Linked DNA regions of Homo sapiens. The protein of the gene in region 1 interacts with the protein of each later gene in a pairwise test. Each region holds a gene or a part of one and is shown in the gene's direction. Other genes may lie near its edges.

What was found. Proteins that work in one complex are often made in the same cells at the same time.
Region 2: the proteins of USP36 (region 1) and SOD2 interact in a two-hybrid assay, tested with the Homo sapiens proteins (one study listed by BioGRID).
Region 3: the proteins of USP36 (region 1) and DHX33 interact in binary tests that used the Homo sapiens proteins (3 or more experiments, as listed by UniProt).

Annotation. Positions count from the first base shown.
Region 1 is NC_000017.11:78,802,785-78,809,821, reverse strand, and holds part of USP36 (ubiquitin carboxyl-terminal hydrolase 36), read left to right. Parts: intron 1-2,185; coding exon 2,186-2,863; intron 2,864-3,501; coding exon of another isoform or gene 3,502-3,535; coding exon 3,536-3,666; intron 3,667-5,843; coding exon 5,844-6,437; intron 6,438-6,966; coding exon of another isoform or gene 6,967-7,037. UniProt on the Homo sapiens protein: Deubiquitinase essential for the regulation of nucleolar structure and function. Required for cell and organism viability.
Region 2 is NC_000006.12:159,683,215-159,690,251, reverse strand, and holds part of SOD2 (superoxide dismutase [Mn], mitochondrial isoform A precursor), read left to right. Parts: intron 1-2,009; coding exon 2,010-2,126; intron 2,127-5,218; coding exon 5,219-5,398; intron 5,399-7,037. UniProt on the Homo sapiens protein: Destroys superoxide anion radicals which are normally produced within the cells and which are toxic to biological systems.
Region 3 is NC_000017.11:5,451,956-5,458,992, reverse strand, and holds part of DHX33 (ATP-dependent RNA helicase DHX33), read left to right. Parts: intron 1-2,810; coding exon 2,811-2,996; intron 2,997-3,721; coding exon 3,722-3,833; intron 3,834-5,012; coding exon 5,013-5,172; intron 5,173-5,324; coding exon 5,325-5,413; intron 5,414-7,037. UniProt on the Homo sapiens protein: Implicated in nucleolar organization, ribosome biogenesis, protein synthesis and cytoplasmic dsRNA sensing. Stimulates RNA polymerase I transcription of the 47S precursor rRNA.

The DNA of each region.
Region 1 (7,037 bases):
CCAAAACCCCATCTCCAAAAAAAGTGCAAAAATTAGCCAGGTGTGGTGGTGCACGTCTGTTGTCCCAGCTGTTTGGAGGTTGAGGCAGGAGGATCACTTAAACACAAGGCTGCATTGAGCTATCATTGTGCCACTGCGCTCCAGCCTGGACAACAGAATGAGACCCTGTCTCAAAAAACCCCAGAAAAACAAAGGAAGCCCCACTTGCCACAGGAACTCCATGGGCAGAGTGATGCCCGAGGGTGGAGATTGGCTCAAGGAGAGTCCCTGTGTCAGGCACACCTGCAGGGGCGCTTCACTGACCATGAGCATTTTCATTACAAACGTGATTTTCCAAATACACTGCAAGCAGACGAGCCGTTTTACTCTAAATGACATGGTGCAAGTTCTAGTGTGTATGGAAATGTTCAGCCAGTGAAACGGCTTTGCGGTGCAGTGGAAAGATGAATTCCTTTTAGAAAACAGTATTAACAAAGAATAGAATGTAGGGAACAAAACAAAACTTGGAAGAAAATAGAGGTAAATTCTTAACCTCTGGGAAGGGAAGAAGACTTTGTATGCTTAAAGTTGAAGGATAAAATGTAGAAGAATTATGAATTGACTAAGATTTACATTTTTGTACATAATTTACTACAAACAAATGAAGCAATAAAACCTTGTAAAATATTGTCAACAAAAGGTTAACATTTGTAAACAAAAGATCTCATTCAAATGAAGATCACTTTAGTGCATGTGCAGAGAATATGAATGTTAAAGTGGTAATAGCCCAAACGAGTGTCAAATTAGCAAATGTTTTGAAAAATAGATGTGGCTGGAGTATAGTAAAAGCAGTTTGGCATTTTGCATCAGATTTCATGAAAATGAAATCTGTAATTTCATTTCCAGAAAATTAGCCTTGTAATTCCATTTCCAGAAAATTAGCATGGAGTACTAAGTACAGGAAAAGCTCAACAAATATTTTTTAAGCACCGACTCTATACCAGACCCTTGAGTTGCTGGTGAGGGCTGCAGTGGGAACGAGAGAGATAACGGGTACAGCCTCTTGGTCAAGCAGGGGAAGGCTGACATTCAGCATCTAAATACAGAATAATAAGTTATTTCTATGCAGTTGTAATAAGTGCTCTGAAGGGTAAAGGATACACACACATATACTGTACAGTATTTTTAATTTCAACAGTTGGAGACAATATAGCTTATATAAATTAACCATACAGTTAATGTGTATCAGTAGTACATAGTATATATAGTAAAATGTCAAAGACAGGCCGACAGGCAGGGTGCAGTTGCTCAGGCCTGTAATCCCAGCACTTTGAGAGGCCAGGGTGGGAGGATTGCTTGAGCTCAGGAATTCAAGGCTAGCCGGGGCAACATAGCAAGATCCCCATCTCTACAAAATAGTAATAATTATTCGGGTGTGGTGGTCTACTCCTATAGTCCTAGCCAGTTGGGCAGCTGAAGTGGGAGGATCTCTTGAGCCCAGAAGGTTGAGGCTGCAGTGAGTTATGATGACATCATCATGCCACTGCACTCCAGCCTGGGCAACAGAGCAAGGCTCTGTCTTAAAGATATTTATTGAGAGTTATCGCCCATAAAAATGCTTGAGATAATAGCTTTAAGATAAAACTGGGATGCAACTCTTCAGGCCAGAACCATTTGGAAGAAAAGATTGAAAAAAGAAAGCACTAGAATGTTAATGCATGGTTATGTTTAGGTGATGGAACTTTGCTAAATTTCTTCCTTTATACTTTTTTCTCTTCCCAAATCTTGATGAAAATGTACTGGTTTTATAGTAAAGGTGGCCATAAAGATATGTATTCAGGCCAGGTGCTATGGCTCACACCTGTAATCCCAACACTTCTGGAGGCTGAGGCAGGTGGACTGCTCGAGGCCAGAAGTTTGAGACCAGCCTGGCCAACATGGTGAAACCCCATCTCTGTCAAAAATACAGAAATTAGCCAGGTGTGGTGGTACACGGCTGTGGTCCCTGTTCTTGGGATGTCACAGAACACCAGAATTGTTCAGAGAAGCCACAGTGTCTTTACCAAGAGTCCAGATAAATAATTTATCTTGAGCATGCTAATCAGAGGCCATGCCTGCTACTAAGATTCACTGTGGCCTTAAGAAGATGTGGCCCAGCTGAGACTTCTCGCTTCCTCAGTTGTGTTTTCTGCTTTGGTCTCCTTAGCGACAAGACTCTGGGACGATGAAGAAGCCGCACACCACTGAAGAGATTGGTGTGCCCATATCCAGGAATGGCTCCACCCTGGGCCTGAAGTCCCAGAACGGCTGCATTCCTCCAAAGCTGCCCTCGGGGTCCCCTTCCCCCAAACTCTCCCAGACACCCACACACATGCCAACCATCCTAGACGACCCTGGAAAGAAGGTGAAGAAGCCAGCTCCTCCACAGCACTTTTCCCCCAGAACTGCTCAGGGGCTGCCTGGGACCAGCAACTCGAATAGCAGCAGATCTGGGAGCCAAAGGCAGGGCTCCTGGGACAGCAGGGATGTTGTCCTCTCTACCTCACCTAAGCTCCTGGCTACAGCCACTGCCAACGGGCATGGGCTGAAGGGGAACGACGAGAGCGCTGGCCTCGACAGGAGGGGCTCCAGCAGCTCCAGCCCAGAGCACTCGGCCAGCAGCGACTCCACCAAGGCCCCCCAGACCCCCAGGAGTGGAGCGGCCCATCTCTGCGATTCTCAGGAAACGAACTGTTCCACCGCTGGCCACTCCAAAACGCCGCCAAGTGGAGCAGATTCTAAGACGGTGAAGCTGAAGTCCCCTGTCCTGAGCAACACCACCACTGAGCCTGCAAGCACCATGTCTCCTCCACCAGCCAAAAAACTGGCCCTTTCTGCCAAGAAGGTGGGTGTGTGGGGGTCTCGCCGCTGCTGTGTATCAGGAGAGCTCCAAGAGTTGCTTGGTTGTGGTTTGAAGGGAGTGAGAACATTGTCCGGGGGCTTTGGCCTCCCTCATGTTAGAGGAACAAAGTGTCTTTTAGTCGTTCCCAGCCATTTGCAATTAAAGAACGGCTATCTTGGGGTGAAGGCAGTATGGGGTGTTGAGAGAGCCCTGATCTGGTGATGCTCATGTGACTCATGGAGGTTTGGGCAAGGTAGCAGTTCCCTGTTTTCACAGTAGGTGGAAGATCCTGACTGAACCCGAGGGAGGGTGGGCCCCACCAGCACGTGTCCCTAGCAGGGGTGGGGCGGGCAGGAAGCGCAGAGCCCCAGTGGGGTGCCCGGCACCTCTGCAGCAGGAAGCTTGGGCAGCCACGGCACGTGGATGTGATTGTTGTGCTGAGATTTTTGTTTAAATTTTCTTCCTTTTTTTTGTTTCTAACCAAAAATACTTTTCTGGTTCTTCTTCTACCATTCCCCTGCCCCTCACCTCCCCTTTTTGTCTTCTTCTGTCTCCTCATCTTTTTTTCTGGGCTCTTTTGTTTTTATTTTCATTTTTTGTTACTTTTGTTTTCCCTCTTCACTCACGGAAACCTTTTTTAGACCACCAAGTTTTTATTTATGTCGATAACTGCAGGCCAGCACCCTGTGGAGGGCGACCGGCAATGACCTCCGTCCACCTCCCCCCTCACCATCCTCCGACCTCACCCACCCCATGAAAACCTCTCACCCCGTCGTTGCCTCCACTTGGCCCGTCCATAGAGCCAGGTAAGCTTTGGGCCGGGATCTTCTGGGTGCCAACTGGTTCTCCCTGTGGTTGCGTGTGCTTGGCTGGTGAGGAGTTGGACGAATCGCCAACCTCACAGGACAGACAAAGCATTGGGGCAGCCAGGAGGTACAGGGGGGCGTCACTGACCAAGATCCCCCTCTTCTGTGTTCCCCTGTGGTAAAGGAGCTTTGGGTGGTGAAGGCAGTTCGGCCTCTGCAGTCCTGATGTCTTAGTTCTGTCTTTGTTGGTGGTCTGTCTGCGACATCCTTGTGGTGATGTGGTGTGCTGGGGACTGACCTGTCCTGTATCCCTACCAGCCCCATGACAGTACTTCCCAGTCGAAGAGAAAGGCGAAGTGAGGCCTTGGCGAGAGGCTTGAGTGAGCTCGGAGTCCCGAGCGTTTTTTGTGGGACGTCTTGCCTGCTAGCGTCATGCAGGTTAAGAACTGTCTCAGGGCTCTCGGGTTCCTCTGCAGACACCTGCCAGAGATGCAGCCCCTTCCCTGTGCATGTGGGCCCTGGTCCGCAGGGGCTGCCTGCGTCTCTTAGGTGCCTCGAGTGGCAGGAAGTTGAGAGTAACTGGTAAATGGCTGTCTGGAAGCCGCTGGGAGTGGGGACGGAAGCAGTGAAAGATGGGGTGAGTCATGAGGCGGCCTGCGGGGACTGTACTGGTGGCCTCGGCGCTGGGTTCTAGTTCTAGAATCTCCAGTGCTACATGAGGGCGAGGTATGACTGTGCGTCGCCCACAGCCTCTGCCTTACTCTCCTCTCACATATACACACACAAGCACACCTCTGCCCTATACCTAGCATAAGATTTGTGTACGTGGGAGGGCCTTAAGTGTTTGGGTGTTTTTCGTTTCTTGCCTTATAAGCTTTTTTGGAAAAGATTCCAGAAGACACTTAGAGTAATCAAACATCGTGCAGCTGGCATGGCCCTTATAGTTTGTTTAGATGATGACGGGGGTCCTGTTTTCTGCAGGAACCCTGGGAGGTGGGCTTTGTGGTCCCAGCTCATTGACAAATGAGAACATGGTGGTTCAGAGTGGGAAGTTAATTTTCCTAGAGACACATAGCTGGCAAGAGGGAGCCTCACTGGGTTCGGCACTAGATCCTGTCCCGGACACGCCTTGCTCATGATTCTGCTCTACGCATCTGTGTCCCGGTTTCAGCGTCCTAATGACGGTAATGTGGAGGTGTCATTAGGCCAGCTCAACACTTGCTTTCCTTATGAGGCTCATTTCCTGCCCGGGAACACCCTGAGACTTTCGGAGGTTGGAAAATAAATCCTCACGGGATCTTTTTTTTCCTTACCATTTATTGTTTCGTGAAGGTTTCCTCCCTTAACACATTTGTATTAAAGATGTTTTTACATTAGAGCTCGCAAAAATACTTGAATTGCTTGGTGACAAGAAACTAAGGCATGGAACAATTCTTATTAACTTTGCCTTTTAAAAAAAAAAAAATTTTTTTTTTGACTTTTAAAATCACGTGTTGGCTTGCTTTTTTTTTTTTTTTTTTTTTTTTTTTTAAATCTCAGGGATCAGTTATTTTAAGTTCCAGGGTACATGTGCAGGATGTAAAGGTTTGTTACAGAGGTGCCATGGTGGTTTGCTGCACCTATCAACCCACCACCTAGGTAACTTTGTTTTTTTTTTTTTGTTTTTGTTTTTGTTTTTTTGGTTTTTTTTTTTTTTGAGACGGAGTCTTGCTTTGTCGCCCAGGCTGGAGTGCAGTGGCGCGATTCGGCTCACTGCAACCTCCACCTCCCAGGTTCAAGCGATTCTCCTGCCTCAGTCTCCTGACTAGCTGAGATTACAGGCGTGTGCCACCACGCCCGGCTAATTTTGTATTTTTAGTAGAGATGGGGTTTCACCATGTTGGCTAGGCTGGTCTCAAACTTCTGACCTCAGGTGATCCAGCCACCTTGGCTTCCCAAAGTGCTGGAATTATAGGCATGAGCCACTGTACCTGGCCAACTTTGCATTTAAATAGATGTTGAATTAATTGTTAGCTTTCTTTCAAACATACATGTAACTTAATGTGTATCTGAAAACTACAGGGTAAAAGCCTTTTCAGATTTTTAGGTGAAAGGGAGGGGAGTGAGGGTAGACAGAAGGAACAGCTCTGCTGGGTCTTTCAGAACATCCTCTCCCTGTTTCCTGGCTGTCCCCACAGGGCTGTGTCACCTGCTCCCCAATCATCCAGCCGCCTGCAACCCCCCTTCAGCCCCCACCCCACATTGCTGTCCAGTACCCCCAAGCCCCCAGGGACGTCAGAACCACGGAGCTGCTCCTCCATCTCGACGGCGCTGCCTCAGGTCAACGAGGACCTTGTGTCTCTTCCACACCAGTTGCCAGAGGCCAGTGAGCCCCCCCAGAGCCCCTCTGAGAAGAGGAAAAAGACCTTTGTGGGAGAGCCGCAGAGGCTGGGCTCAGAGACGCGCCTCCCACAGCACATCAGGGAGGCCACTGCGGCTCCCCACGGGAAGAGGAAGAGGAAGAAGAAGAAGCGCCCGGAGGACACAGCTGCCAGCGCCCTGCAGGAGGGGCAGACACAGAGACAGCCTGGGAGCCCCATGTACAGGAGGGAGGGCCAGGCACAGCTGCCCGCTGTCAGACGGCAGGAAGATGGCACACAGCCACAGGTGAATGGCCAGCAGGTGGGATGTGTTACGGACGGCCACCACGCGAGCAGCAGGAAGCGGAGGAGGAAAGGAGCAGAAGGTCTTGGTGAAGAAGGCGGCCTGCACCAGGACCCACTTCGGCACAGGTAAGGGCAGGAGCAAAGTGGCATCTGTCTACCTCTGACGAGAAACAAAGCAAAACCACAGAATCTACCCCCAAGTAGGTATGGTCTGGAAACGTAGTCTGCTTGCGTGGTTTTCTAAAATGTGGATTTGTGATCAGATGTCTCCTCTGGCTGGGTGTGGTGGCTCACACCTGTAATCCTAGCACTTTGGGAGGCTGAGGCGGGTGGATCACTTCAACCCAGGAGTTTGAGACCAGCCTAGGCAATATGGAAAAGCCCTTTCTCTACCAAAAACAAAAATTGGTTGGGCATGGTGGCATGCACCTATAGTCCCAGCTACTCAGGAGGCTGAGGTGGGAGGATGGTTTGAGCCCAGGAGGTGGAGGTTGCAGTGAGCTGAGATCGCGTCACTGCACTACAGCCTGGGTGACAGCTAAACCCTGTCTAAAAAAAAAGAAAAAAGAAAAAATATCTCCTCTGATAAATACCAGTGGATTGATCCTTGAAGCGACAGTGGTGTGGACAGTAGTGTCCATCATTGTATGTGCAGGGCCGTTCAAGGATGCTGGATCAGGTGTCCCGGGCCAGGCCAGGATCTGCCGTTTCATCAGGTCACAGTAG
Region 2 (7,037 bases), on another chromosome or scaffold:
GCAGTGATGTGATCTCGGCTCACTACAACCTCCGTCTCCTGGGTTCAAGCAATTCTCCTGCCTCAGCCTCCTGAGTAGCTGGGATTACAGGCGTACGCCACCACGCCTGGCTACTTTTTGTGGGTTTTTTAGTAGAGACAGGGTTTTTCCATGTCGTCCAGGCTGGTCTGGAACTCCTGACCTCAAGTGATCCGCCCATCTCAGCCTCCCAAAGTGCTGGGATTACAGGCGTGAGCCACCTCACCTGGCCTTGTATGTATGTTTTTTTCTTTCTCTTTCTTTTTTTTTTTCTGTGACGGAGTATTGCCCTGTCGCCCAGGCTGGAGTGCAGTGGCGTGTTCTTGGTTCACTGCAACCTCTGCCTCCTGGGTTCAAGCCATTCTCCTGCCTCATGCTCCTGAGTAGCTGGGATTATAGGCACGCGCCACCATACCTGGCTAATTTCTGTATTTTTAGTGAAGACAGGGTTTCACCATGTTGGCCAGGCCGGTCTTGAAATCCTGACCTGAAGAGAGCTGCCCGCCTCGGCTTCCCAAAGTGCTGAGATTACAGGCGTGAGCCACCGCACCCGGCCCAGACATATGTTCTTAACGTACACTTTCAGAACAGCAGTTGAGAACTTTTTCCAAAATGTAAGCTCCTTGAGAGCAAAGCTCTCAGTGGGTCTCTGTGTCCTTTACTTTGCTTCTCTTGGTATCTTGTGGATAATATGCACAAAATATTTATTAAACAAGAGGATTTCCATTTTTTTCTAATATTAATAGTTCATTTAGTCTGTAGCTTCTTGAAGGCATAGAAAAGACTATTTTATTTTGCCTACTTATTTGGCAAGGTACCCATGCAGTATGCCAGGAGTTACAGGGCCTATTGAGAAGGAGTAAAGGGTCTGGGAGGGGTGGCAGGGAGTTGCTAATTCATGTATGGTGGCTAGAGAAGGCTTCACTGATGGGGTTGATGTTTCAGTGGAGACTTGAAGGAGGAACAGGAACGCAGCATGAGACTGTCTTGGGGAAGAGTGTTCAGCAGAGGCAGCAGTGCTCAGCTAGCCTTGAGGGGAACATCCAAGTTGGTCATGTGAGTGCAAAAAGGCCAGTGAGGCTGCAGCTGCGTGAGCACGTGCTCAATGACGGGGTCAAGTGCAGCGCCTCTTGGTAGTAAGAGTAGCTGAGTGTAAACACCTAGGGTTCGCTCCAGTGAGAAGGGGAGCCTTTGGAGGGGGCAAGGCCCACCCCCACCCCCCAAAACTGAGGGGATAGTGGCACCAGTGCAGTGAGAAATACTGGTCCTCTGTCCCAATGAGGTGGCAGTAGAGTTAGGGAGAAGGGATTAGGTTCTGCTTGTGTTTTATTTTTTTCTTTTATTTTTCTCTGTGTGCTTTTATATAGATTGGATGTATTTTAAAGGTAGAGCTGGCTTTGCTAATGGATATGCTGGTGGATTGGATGTGGGGTGAAGGGAGAGGAGTCAAAAATGACATCAGGTTCCCAAGGATGTCCTGAGGGACAGAGCTGGCATTTACTGAGACGTGGAGGACAATAGGAGGAGTAAGTTTGGGGTAGAACATCAGGAGTTCAATTTTGAGTATGTTGAGTTTCTTGTTAATGTGACTTGGAGATATTTCCCAATGAATCGTCGTCTGTCTTGAAAGTGAGAGTTGAAGGTTTTCTGTACAGTCTGTATGTTGAGCCATACATTTTAGCATTCTATTATTTTGATTGTCCTCTTTGGTGTTTCATTTCCTAAAATCTCTTCTATCTAAGAGATCCCTGAGCCTAGCAGCCAGGAGTGAATTTTCTAGCTTTTCCACCTCTGCTAGGTCCTTCATCAGTTGTTCAGCATGTCTGGGACAAATAATTTTGGGGCGGGGGGGTGCTGAATTTTAGGACAAACGGATGTTATAGATAAGCTGGTCCCATTATCTAATAGCTTACAAAGAAAAAAATATAATGTATACAGTGGTTGAAAAAGTAGGAGTTACAAAAAAATGTGTTTGCATTTTAACTTTTCAGGAGATGTTACAGCCCAGATAGCTCTTCAGCCTGCACTGAAGTTCAATGGTGGTGGTCATATCAATCATAGCATTTTCTGGACAAACCTCAGCCCTAACGGTGGTGGAGAACCCAAAGGTTGGTATATATTGGTGCACCCTTATCTACATTTTGTGCACAGTAGGAATCGATTGTTGATTTACTGAAGTTACCTTATACTTGTTTTTTGTTTTTTTTGTTGTTGTTTTTTTGAGACAAGAGTTTTGCTCTTGTTGCCCAGGCTGGAGTACAGTGGCGCAGTCTTGGCTCACTGCAACCTCCGCTTCCTGGGTTCAAGTGATTCTCCTGCCTCAGCCTCCCAAGTAGCTGGGATTACAGGCGCCCGCCACCACGCCTGGCTAATTTTTGCATTTTTAGTAGAGATGAGGTTTCATTCACCATGTTGGCCAGGCTGGTCTTGAACTCCTGACCTCATGATCTGCCCACCTTGGCCTCCCAAAGTGCTGGGATTACAGGCATGAGCCACCGTGCCTGGCCTAAGTTACCTTATTCTTACCAGAGGTATCATAGTGGCATATTTTTCATAACAACGAGTATGATAAAAGTTGTAACTTTCAAAAGGACACAAGTAGGAATGGAGAATGCTTTCATGGGGTTATGTCATAAGATTTTATGTTCACGCCAACATAGAATATCACATCAACTCCACCTTCTGGTTTCTGGATGGTACTTCATATTAGGGAAAGACTGAGAGACTTCATTTTATGAACTTTTTTTTTTTGAGACGGAGTCTTACAGTCGCCCAGGCTGGAGCGCAGTGGTGCAATGTCGGCTCATTGCAACCTCCGCCTTTCAGGTTCATGCAATTCTTGTGTCTCAGCCACCCAAGTAGCTGGGATTACAGGCATGTGGCATCACTCCCGGCTAATTTTTATATTTTTGGTAGAGACAGGGTTTCACCATGTTGGCGGGGCTGGTCTCGAACTCCTGGCCTCAAGTGATCCACCCACCTTGGCCTCCCAAAGTGCTGTGGTATGGATGTGAGCCACCGCGCCAGTCTAGAAAAGATGAACTTTCTGTCTACTAGTTTCTAGGGCCTGGATTAGATAGTTAACCGTCTGTACCTTTTTTCATCTATGTGATACAGGGATAACAATGGTGTTGTTTTGAGAATTAAATTATAGTGTCATTTGCTATTTTTCACTCTTTCCTAACTGATAAAAAGTCAGTTGTTCCAGGAAATTAGGTTTTCTGGGTATTTTTAAAAAGTGTTCAGGGAATGAGGAGAGTACAGGGCTAGATGGTCTTGTTCGCTATCACTGTTTCCTTGACTTCCTGTGTAGCTTGTGGAGGCCCAGATGACTTTAATTATCTTCTTCACCCAGGGAGGGCATGAGGCGTAAATGTAGTTCTTGTCTCTTGTTTCTGGGCTCCGGATATGCACCCTAAGTTTCTGTGGTTTTATTGTTCATTTTTAATCAGTGTTATGGAAGGCAGCCTATCTTATGCACTTGAAATAAGCAATTTCATTTTAAGGTAATGATGAATGAGGAGAGTAAGCTTGGGAAACTGGGCAACTTTTTCTTTATTTTTGTTTTTATTTATTATTATTTTGGAGATGGAGTTTAGCTCTTTCGCCCAGGCTACAGTGAAGTGGCTTGATCTTGGCTCACTGCAGCCTCTGCCCATCCCGGGTTCAAGTGATTCTCTGCCTCAGCCTCCCGAGTAGCTGGGATTATAGGTGCCTGCCACCATGCCCGGCTAATTTTTTTGTATTTTTAGTAGAGAGGAGTTTCTCCATGTTGGTCAGGCTGGTTTTGAACTCCTGACCTCAGGTGATCCACCTGTCTCGGCCTCCCAAAGTACTAAGATTACAGGTGTGAGCCACCGTGCCTGGCCAACTTATTTTTTTTCTGAGTTCAGTCTTCTAGACTATCGGTTAATACTTTTGAAGTTTTGTCAGTTACCAGAATATCAGATATATTCATATGCAACCAGTGGTTTTGGTATGCTGCCATTTTTGTTTAATCTGTACCACATTCCATCATTTGTGCTTATAAAGATGATTACTTTTAAACCCGTAGAATAAGAGAAGTGAGATTTTGACCCAGTTGATTTAGTTGATGTGACTAATCTAGAATTATATTCTGTATTACTACAGAATAAAAGGATTACAGCTCTTAAAGTATACCCTTAGTTCAGTCGTAGAGAAAACTGCCCATCAAGACAGGAAGAGCTGGGCTGCCTTGGAGAAGAACAATGACTTTATTCCCAAATGGAGGCGTAGAAGAAGGAGGGTAGAAGTCAAAGGAAAATTTTCTATTCAGGGAAAAGAAAAAGCTAACAGAAAGTAGTATTTCTTTCCTAACAAAGATAGTACAGTGAGTGGGGAAATCCCTCTAACACGATTCATTAAAAAATGTGAACTACGCAGCTGGAGGCCATTATCCTAAGCGAATTAACCCAGGAACAGAAAACCAAATACCACATGTCTCACTTGCAAGTGGAAGCTAAACATGGAGTACTTATGGATATAAAAATGGCAGCAACAGACACTGAGGACAGAGCAGGGAGGGAGAAAGAAGGGGACGGGGGGTGAAAACTGTTGTATACTAAGCTCGCTACCTGGGTGATGGCATCAATTGCACCCCAGACCTCAGCATCATATGATACCCGTGTAACAAACCTGTGCGTGTACCCTCTGAATTTAAAATAAAATTTGAACCGGGCACGGTGGCTCACGCCTGTATTCCCAGCACTTTGGGAGGCCAAGGCGGGTGGATCACCTGAGGTTGGGAGTTTGAGACCAGCCTGACCAACATGGAGAAACCCTGTCTCTACTAAAAACACAAAATTAGCCGGGCGTGATGGCACGTGCCTGTAATCGCAGCTGCTCGGGAGGCTAAGGCAGGAGAATTGCTTGAACCTGGGAGGCAGAGGTTGCAGTGACCCGAGATCATGGCATTGCACTCCAGCCTGGGCAACAAGAGTGAAACTCCGTCTCAAAAGGTAAAAAATGAAAAAAAAAAAAAAAAAAAAAAAAAGTTGAAGTTATAAAAAACAAAAACGTGAATTAAAATTGTGAAACTTAGATCCAGGTGTCGCATTCTGATGTTGTCTAATTTCTTGGGCCCTATGACAAAAATATTTTAATACATGTAATATAACATTTTACTGTAATTATTGAAATCTGTTCATTTGTGGGTGGTTTTGGATTTTTTTTTTAATAGGGGAGTTGCTGGAAGCCATCAAACGTGACTTTGGTTCCTTTGACAAGTTTAAGGAGAAGCTGACGGCTGCATCTGTTGGTGTCCAAGGCTCAGGTTGGGGTTGGCTTGGTTTCAATAAGGAACGGGGACACTTACAAATTGCTGCTTGTCCAAATCAGGATCCACTGCAAGGAACAACAGGTTAGATTTAAAAATTGTGATTTCATTTGGGAGAGATGCTCTACTGTAAAGCATTCAACTAGAAATAAGGAAAACTAACAGTGTTTTAAGAACATGTAATAATTTGCAAATCTTAACAGATAACACCCAGAGTCTTGTGTAAGTAAAAATGTTTTAGAAGTCCTGATATTTCATAAAATTAAGTACACGTAATTTTATAGGTACATTAACAAACATGTTTTATTTTTATTTATTTTTTTTGAGACAGATCTCACTGTTGCCCAGGCTGGAGTGCAGTGGTGCGATCTCGGTTCACTGCAACCTCCGCCTCCTGGGTTCAAGTGATTCTCCTGCCTCAGCCTCCCAAATAGCTGGGATTACAGGCACATACCACCATGCCCAGCTAATTTTTGTGTTTTTAGTACAGACAGGGTTTCACCATGTTGGCCAGGCTGGTCTTGAACTCCTGACCTCAGGTATCTGCCTGCCTCGGCCTCCTGAAGTGCTGGGATTACAGGCATGAGCCACCATGCCCAGCCAAATGTTTTACTTATTAACCCTGCTTCATTCTACAGAGAATTAATATCAGCTTAGATAATTATATGTACTAAAATAAAAAAAAAATTAGCTATAGAACAAGAGTGAGGAAAAGAAATACAAGCAGAGACTGATTTCAGAGCTTGTACTGTTACCTCCTCTGCTGAGCATTTGAGGTTAAACTGGGACTAGATCTCAGGTTTCCAGACCTTCTGCCTTTCTGGGGCTCTTTGGTAGAGTATATGAAAATATTCGGCTTGGAAGTGCCAGGCTGGGCTCACCAAATACTTTGCTGTTGAGCCTAATTGGATTTAAAAAATGTCACTGAAGAGTATGGGAAATAGAGCCATGAGTTGTCTGGCAGAGGGTTGGGACTTTGAACTTAAAGTGATACCTTCACATCAACAACAGTCATTCTCTGCCCCTTCTTCTACCCCTGACATTGGAATACTCTTGATCTGTGGCTCACTTCACAGGATAGACCCAGATTTTGGCAGAATCTGAACAGCTCTTTTGGGACAGTGACATGGCATAACAATTTGTAAAAGCCACAAAAAATTTGTAAGCACCGATCTGTAGAGTCAGGTTATTTGTAGAGCTGCATGACCAGAAAGGCTGATATTTGTAAGTGAGTCCCAGCTACACTCCTTCCTCTCCCTGTGGAAAGCACATTAGAAGGAAAATGAGGGAATGTCATGGCCTTTTGTTTATAAAAATCATTAATAAATTTTGCTACTTGAAATTATTAATAATAAATTACTAGTGACCTCCCTCACAACTGATCAAGACATACTGGTTAAGAATTGTTTTTGTAGAGAGAGCTATAATTTATTTTGAGTGTTTTTGTGTGTGCGTGATGGAGTCTCACTCTGTTGCCCAGGCTGGAGTGCAGTGGCGCAATCTTGGCTCACTACAACTTCCGCCTCCCAGGTTCAAGCAATTCTCCTGCGTCAGCTTCCTGAGTAGCTGGGATTACAGGCGCCTGCCACCTCGCCAGGCTAATTTTTTGTATTTTTAGTAGAGGCGGGGTTTCACCATGTTGGCCAGGCTGGTCTCGAACGCCTGACCTCAAGAGATCTGCCTGCCTCGGCCTCCCAAAGTGCTGGGATTACAGGCCTGAGCC
Region 3 (7,037 bases), about 73 Mb from region 1:
CTCCTGACCTCAAGTGATTTTCCCGACTCAGCCTCCCAAAGCACTGGGATTGCAGATGTGAGAAACCGTGCCCAGTCAATTTTTATTTTAAAATAAGTGATGCATATGGGATTTAAAGTTTTAAAAAGTCAAGTAGTTTATAGTAAAAGGTTTATAATAAAAGAATAGCAGTTGTTTTTACTTCAACATCCCAGATTTCTGCTGTTTAGGGCACCTACTTTCAATCTCTACATATTGCTTTCATGTTTCTAAACTACCTTGCTTTGACCACTATTTTTTGAGTTATGGGTATCAGGCATCATATGCTAATTTCTTACCATGGTGACAAAAGTTTAGAATGCCCCTCCCCAACCCCCTTTATCTCCAACCTCTTGACAGTTCTATCATGTTTTTGTTTAGGTTTTTGTTTTTGAGGCAGGATCTTGCTGTGTTGCCCAGGCTGGTCGTGAACTCCCGGGCTCAATCAGTCCTCCCACCTCAGCATTGGGAGTAGCTAGGACTACATGCTTGCACACCTGTGTCTGGCCTATTATGATGTTTTCTGAGTCCAGTATCAATACTAAGAATATTATGACCACACATTGCTAGTAGCACACCATCATCCCTGTACCTTGTTTCTTGAACAACACAGTTGTGCAAGCTTTCTGGGTAGCTCTGGCTCATTTTCTCCCAAATATTCCAACATCTCATATGCCAGTCGTGTATAGTTCTGTGTTCAAGCACAGTCTGTCTTTTCAGAGTCCTTTATGCTGCTGTTCCAGTTGGGGCAGGTGGCTCTCCTGGGCCTTTGTGCAGCTGTCATCTTGACTCTTCACTTTGTCACCATTTTCCCGTGGTGAGACCCATGGCTTCCCAGTCTCCTGGCCGTCCTGGGTAGGAGAGGGAACTGAAGGCTTTAACTACTCTATACTCAGACTTTGAACCAATCCCTGAGTTTTCACTCTCCCACAACATAATTTGTAGTTTCCTCCCTCTAGCCAAGTCATCCAGCCCCTTTCCCCTCTCTTCCAAAATGAGTTGAGACTCCTCATCTCTCATTGCCTTTTCTTTCTAAGACAGTGGCCTTTACTGTCGTTTTCATAGTGTTTGGGGAAGAAGTCTGCCTTGTTCAGCTGCAGAAAGCAAACGAGAATTTTTCATGAATGATGGCTGCTGGTGCATTAGGTTACCACTGGCTTTGATGAATTCTCCCACTCATGAGGTTTTGACTGTTTTAGATTTTATCCTGTCTGTGTATCCCTCTGCACATTTGTTCTGTTAATACTGGGCTGAAAAAAAATACATATTAAAAAATACGTATTTTTACATATATACATAAATATACATATAATTATTAAAATTTTTTTCTATTTATTTTGCCATTAGGCACTTTTTTTTTTTTTTTTTGAGATGGAGTCTCACTGTGTCGCCCAGGCTGGAGTGCAGTGACACGAGCTCGGCTCACTGCAACCTCTACCTCCCAGGTCCAAGTGATTCTTGTGCCTCAGCCTCCTGAGTATCTGGGATCACACCTAGCTAACTTTTGTATTTTTAATAGAGATGGGATTTCACTGTGTTGGACAGGCTGGTCTCAAACTGCTGACCTCAACCCATTTGCCTGCCTCAGCCTCCCAAAGTGCTGGGGTTACAGGCATGAGCCACTGCGCCCAGTCCATCAAGCACTTCATTTTATTTATTTATTTTTTGAGATGGAGTCTTGCTCTGTCGCCCAGGTTGGAGTGCAGTGATGCAATCTCGGCTCACTGCAACCTCCGCCTCCCATGTTCAAGTGATTCTCCTGCCTCAGCCTCCTGAGTAGCTGGGATTACAGGCGTGCGCCACCACGCCTGGCTAATTTTTTGTATTTTTAGTAGAGACAGGGTTTCACCATGTTGGTCAAGCTGGTCTCGAACTCCTGACCTCAGGTGATCTGGCCGCCTCGGCCTCCCAAAGTGTTAAGCACTTTACATCAAACAAATTAATGTATCTGATCAGAAATCAAAGAAAAATCAGGGCATTAGGTATGTCATTCACACTTGGGTGTTGTTCCATTTGAAAGTGAGGAACCCCATTAACCTCAGTATCTCAAGCAGTTGTCCGAGTATAGTGTGTGTTTTGGGGCGTGTGAAAGCGCTTTCGACGGCGTCATTCATTAAAGGCTCCTTCTCCAGCATGGCTGCGCCTGTTCATTTCCATAGATTAGGATTTCCCCAAGTTTCCTTCTGTTTTGTCAACTTCATTTTTCAAGATGCTTATAAAAGAAAGGAAGCTTCATGCAGATTTTATTTGCTTGCCTGATTATGCTTTTCATGGTATTGTTCTTGTTAGAAAAATCAATCTGATGATTTCCCTTCAAAATTTCATCACTTGGCCTATAAACATAGCTGGCTAACTCCTATATATTACAGTTTTGTTTTTTGTGTTTTTGAGTCAGGTTCTCGTTCTGTCGCCCAGGCTGGAGTGGAGTGGCAAGCAGCTGGAACTATAGGCATGTGTCACCACCCCTGACCAATTTAAAAAAAAGTGTTTTGTAGAGATGGGATCTTGCTGCGTTGCCCAGGCTGGTCACAAACTCCTGGCTGCAAACGATCCTCCCGCCTCAGCCTCCCAAAGTGCTGGGTTTACAGGCGTGAGCCATCACACCCAGCCTGTTACCATTTACACACTGCTGGTAAGGGTTCTCTCCAAGCTAGACATCAACTTTTAGGCTCATTTACATTTCTATAGTTAAGAGAAATAACTCTGGGAAACATCATCAATCACCATTGTCTTTTTCTGTGCAAGCTGCAATTCTATCAATGCCTAGTAAACCCACTCTACTTTTTTTACAGGAAGCCCCTTCTTCACAGGACATCCTGGTGTTCCTCACTGGGCAGGAGGAGATCGAAGCCATGAGCAAGACGTGCCGAGACATTGCAAAGCACCTCCCAGACGGCTGCCCTGCGATGCTGGTCCTTCCTCTGTACGCCTCCCTGCCCTATGCACAGCAGCTCCGAGTCTTCCAAGGGGCCCCAAAGGTGAGTGCACCACCTCTTCTGTCCAGCCCTATTCTGGGCACCCAGACGGATCCACCAGCGAGGTCTGTACCTGTTACCAGGCTCCAGATAAGGTGTATGGGATGGGATACCCAGGTGCCAGATCAGCGCACTGAGGAGGTGCAGGAATAAAATGCGCGGTGACACACGCAGCGCTCCTGTGACAGGAGCAGGGAGACAGTTGTTGGGATGAGGGAGAGTATAAACCAAAGCTGCAAGGTAAACGAGTGACTTCTAAGGACCAGCATAAATTGCATTTGTCCATAGTGCCATTTCTTGTGTGCCTTTGCCGTGCCAGGCACTGTGCTAGCATTTATATCCACTGTCTGTCATCCTCGTGGGAACCGGCAAGGCAGGTTATGATCCCATGGGGATCCTGAGGCCCCAAGAAGGGAAGTAACAATTGCTCAAGGGGGCGCATAGTAAGTCACTGGCAGGGCCACGATTCCAACCCACATCTACTTGCTTCTGATTCCTGTGCTTGTTCCACTGCATCTCATTGCCTCAAATTGACCTTTAAGACTGCAGCGTCCCCTTCCCCTGCCCGGTTTAATGACCAACCATTAATATTAATGACTGCCATTAATAATGGAGTCATCTTCTGTTGGTCAAGAGTGAATTGTGGAAGTTAATGGTGAGAATATGTTTGAAGACTTCTGAATCATCCGTGTGTCAATGCGGCTTTTTGGTTTTCTTCCTCCTTTTAGGGCTATCGCAAAGTGATCATTTCAACCAACATCGCTGAAACCTCCATAACCATTACAGGAATAAAATATGTAGTTGACACGGGCATGGTTAAAGCAAAGAAGTATAACCCTGGTGAGAATTTGTAGTTCATGAATGTCTCTCCTGTGTCTAGTGAGCAGCCACTGAAACTGTAGTCCCACAGTTTTCCCCTGAGTGTTTCATGTTTGTAACTAACAAATTCAGGTGGCAGGCGCCATGAGTGAGATCACCTACACTCCAGGTCCGCGAAGGAGTCCTGAGGCGGGTATGTGAGACAGGAAGTAGAGGCAGGAAAGAAGAGCCCAGGTTGAGCAAACTTGGGCACACAGGGTCAGGGACCTGGGCAGAGGGTCTGGTACCCCATCAGAAGTCGGCTCTAAGGCCAGGGACAGCTGGGTGTCAATCAAAGGGTGTCATCAGAAACTATATATATATGGCTGGTTTGAGCTCCCAGGTTTCTCAGGAAGGAACCAGATCTCCTGGCTGAGGTGAGGCATGGAAGGAGCACTGGCTTCTCCTAAGAAGGTGCAGTGAGAAGCTAACTTAAGGTCATCTTGACTCATGTCTGTTTTATACTTTGCTTTATTCCACAGAGGATTTGAGACCACTGAAATTATTGCTCCCAATTATTGAACTGAAATGCTCTAGTAAACATTTGAGGGTCCTGGCTTCCACAGGTGTATCTTTTTGTGATGACGTAGGTGAAAGAGCTTGGGTCTCCAGTGCCAGGCTAATGATACACCTTTATCAAGAAAATGAACCTCATTTACTGCTAGAAAACAGACATCACATTATTTCTGTCTTACAGCAGAACTGGGAGGGAGGATAAAGCACACAAGTGATTTGAGGCATTTAATTTCGTAGTCATTGATTGATAGTATGACCCCCATCCTAGTTTGCTGAAACTCCCAGTTTTAGCACCCAAAATCCGACATCCCAGGAAACCCTCTGTCCCAAGCAAACTGGAGGGGTTGGCCATCCTACCATCTAAGGCAAGACCTCGGAAACTACTCTTCTCGCCCCTTGCTGCATGCGTGAGGTTTTTCTGATGTTTTTGTAACAGATTTCACAGTGGGCTTATGGCAAAGCCTTGTTTCACTAGGGCCAAACCGCTGCGGAGCAGTCTGGTTTTGTGCTGTCCATTGTGCTAGCCTTGAGGCTTTCTGGACCCCCGTGTTGCTGAAAGAACCACTGGTGTGCTTCTTTTTATCGACACTGTAGAAAGAGTTTGTTCATGTGATGAAGCACTAATGGGGCTCACTCTCCATCCAGACAGTGGTCTTGAGGTGTTAGCAGTGCAGCGGGTATCGAAGACGCAGGCTTGGCAGCGCACAGGGAGGGCTGGCAGAGAGGACAGTGGCATCTGCTACCGGCTCTACACGGAGGACGAGTTTGAGAAGTTTGATAAGATGACCGTGCCAGAGATCCAGAGGTAGGCACCAGTTGCTCCTGCACTGCTGCTGTTTGTCACCATGTCTCTCCTGCTTGCCCAGAGCTGCAGTTTTTACTCACACTCCACCATGAGGGGTTCTGACTCAATGGCAGAGGGATCAGGTCATGACCCTGGTCTCATGCTCTTCACAGGTGTAACCTGGCCAGTGTGATGCTTCAGCTTCTAGCAATGAAAGTCCCAAATGTGCTCACCTTTGACTTCATGTCGAAGCCATCTCCAGGTAAGTGAAATCCACAGTTTTGCAGAAGGTGGGTGAGGAGACAAACAACAACAAATGGACACTTCCAAAAAAATAAAGTATATTGGTCATCTCCTTTTGTTTATTTAATTTTGTGGATGACAACATTAGTTATTAGAGAAGCATCTGAAAATCATGAAATGATAGATAGATACATTGATTGACTTTTAAAGAGACAGGGTCTCACTGTGTGGCCCAGGTGGAGGTGCAGTGACTATTCACAGGCTCCATCACAGCCTCCAACTCCTGGGCTCCAGCGATCCCCCCGCCTCAGCCTCCCAAGTAGCTGGGACCACAGGCATGCGCCAGTGTTCCTAGCTATGAAACGATAGATTCTGTACTATCAGCACCATCAATAAAGTTCCTTGACCTCTGGAACCAGTGAAGGTCATCATGCGAGTCCTTGGGATACTACAGAAATGTAATGAAATTGTACTTTTATCAGCACAGGGACTGCAAAGATCACATTTCTTTGCCTTTAACTGGAATTTGATCCATCTCTCCTGTTCATTAGTAATTTCTCTACAGAAGAAGAAAATAATTGGAAATATTTATGATATTGGCTTTGGCACCTGGCCTCTCATCAACGCACCATTTTCCTTTTCTTTTTATTGCCCCCCCTTTTCTTAAGAAATGCAATTGGTTTAAAAAAGAAGGAAAGAAAACACAAAGTCACCAGTTGATGGGTATACAAGGGTCCTGCCCTGATCCTCAGGTTCACAGTTTCCTTCCCCTAGAACAACCACTGGAACCATTTTCTAGTAGACTTCTAGAGCAAATGTATGCATATATGAGTATATGTAGTGTGTTTGATTTTATTTATGTATTTATTTATTTATTTTTGAGACAGGGTCTCACTCTGGTTGTCCAGGCTGGAGTGCAGTGGCACATTCTCAGCACACTGCAGCCTCAACCTCCCGGGCTCAGGTGATTCTCCCACATCAGCTTCCCAAGTAGCTGGGACTACAGGTGTGAGCCACCAAGCCCCTGCTGTAGTATGTTTTTGTTTTTGTTTTTGTTTTGAGACAGGGTCTCACTCTGTTGCCCAGGCTGGAGTGCAGTGGTGCGATCCCAGCTCACTGCAACCTCCACCTGCCGGGTTCAGGTGATTCTCCTGCCTCAGCCTCCCGAGTAGCTAGGACTACAGGTGTGCACCACCATGCCCGGCTAATTTTTGTATTTTTTAGTATAGATGGAGTTTCACTATGTTGACCAGGCTGGTCTTGAACTCCTGACCTAGGTGGTCCGCCCACCTCGGTCTCCCAAAGTGCTGGGATTACAGGCGTGAGCCACCACGCCCAGCCTGTAGTATGTTTTAAAACACAAATAGCAACACACATTGAGTATTGTTCTGTGCTTGATTTTTTTTCTTTCATTGCTAAATTCTTACATACAAATGAAGAAGATACATAAGGTGTAAGGAATGGTTAAAATCTAACACCTGTGTACCCAATTGAAGCCCCCAGGAGTCCCCCCCACCCACTTGCCCTCGCCTCCTTCCACTCTTTTGGGGTACCCACTCTTCCATATTTTGTTTGTAATTGCCTTGCTTTTCTTCACTGTTTTACTATATGCGTATGTATCCCTAAACCACCTGTTGTTTGTA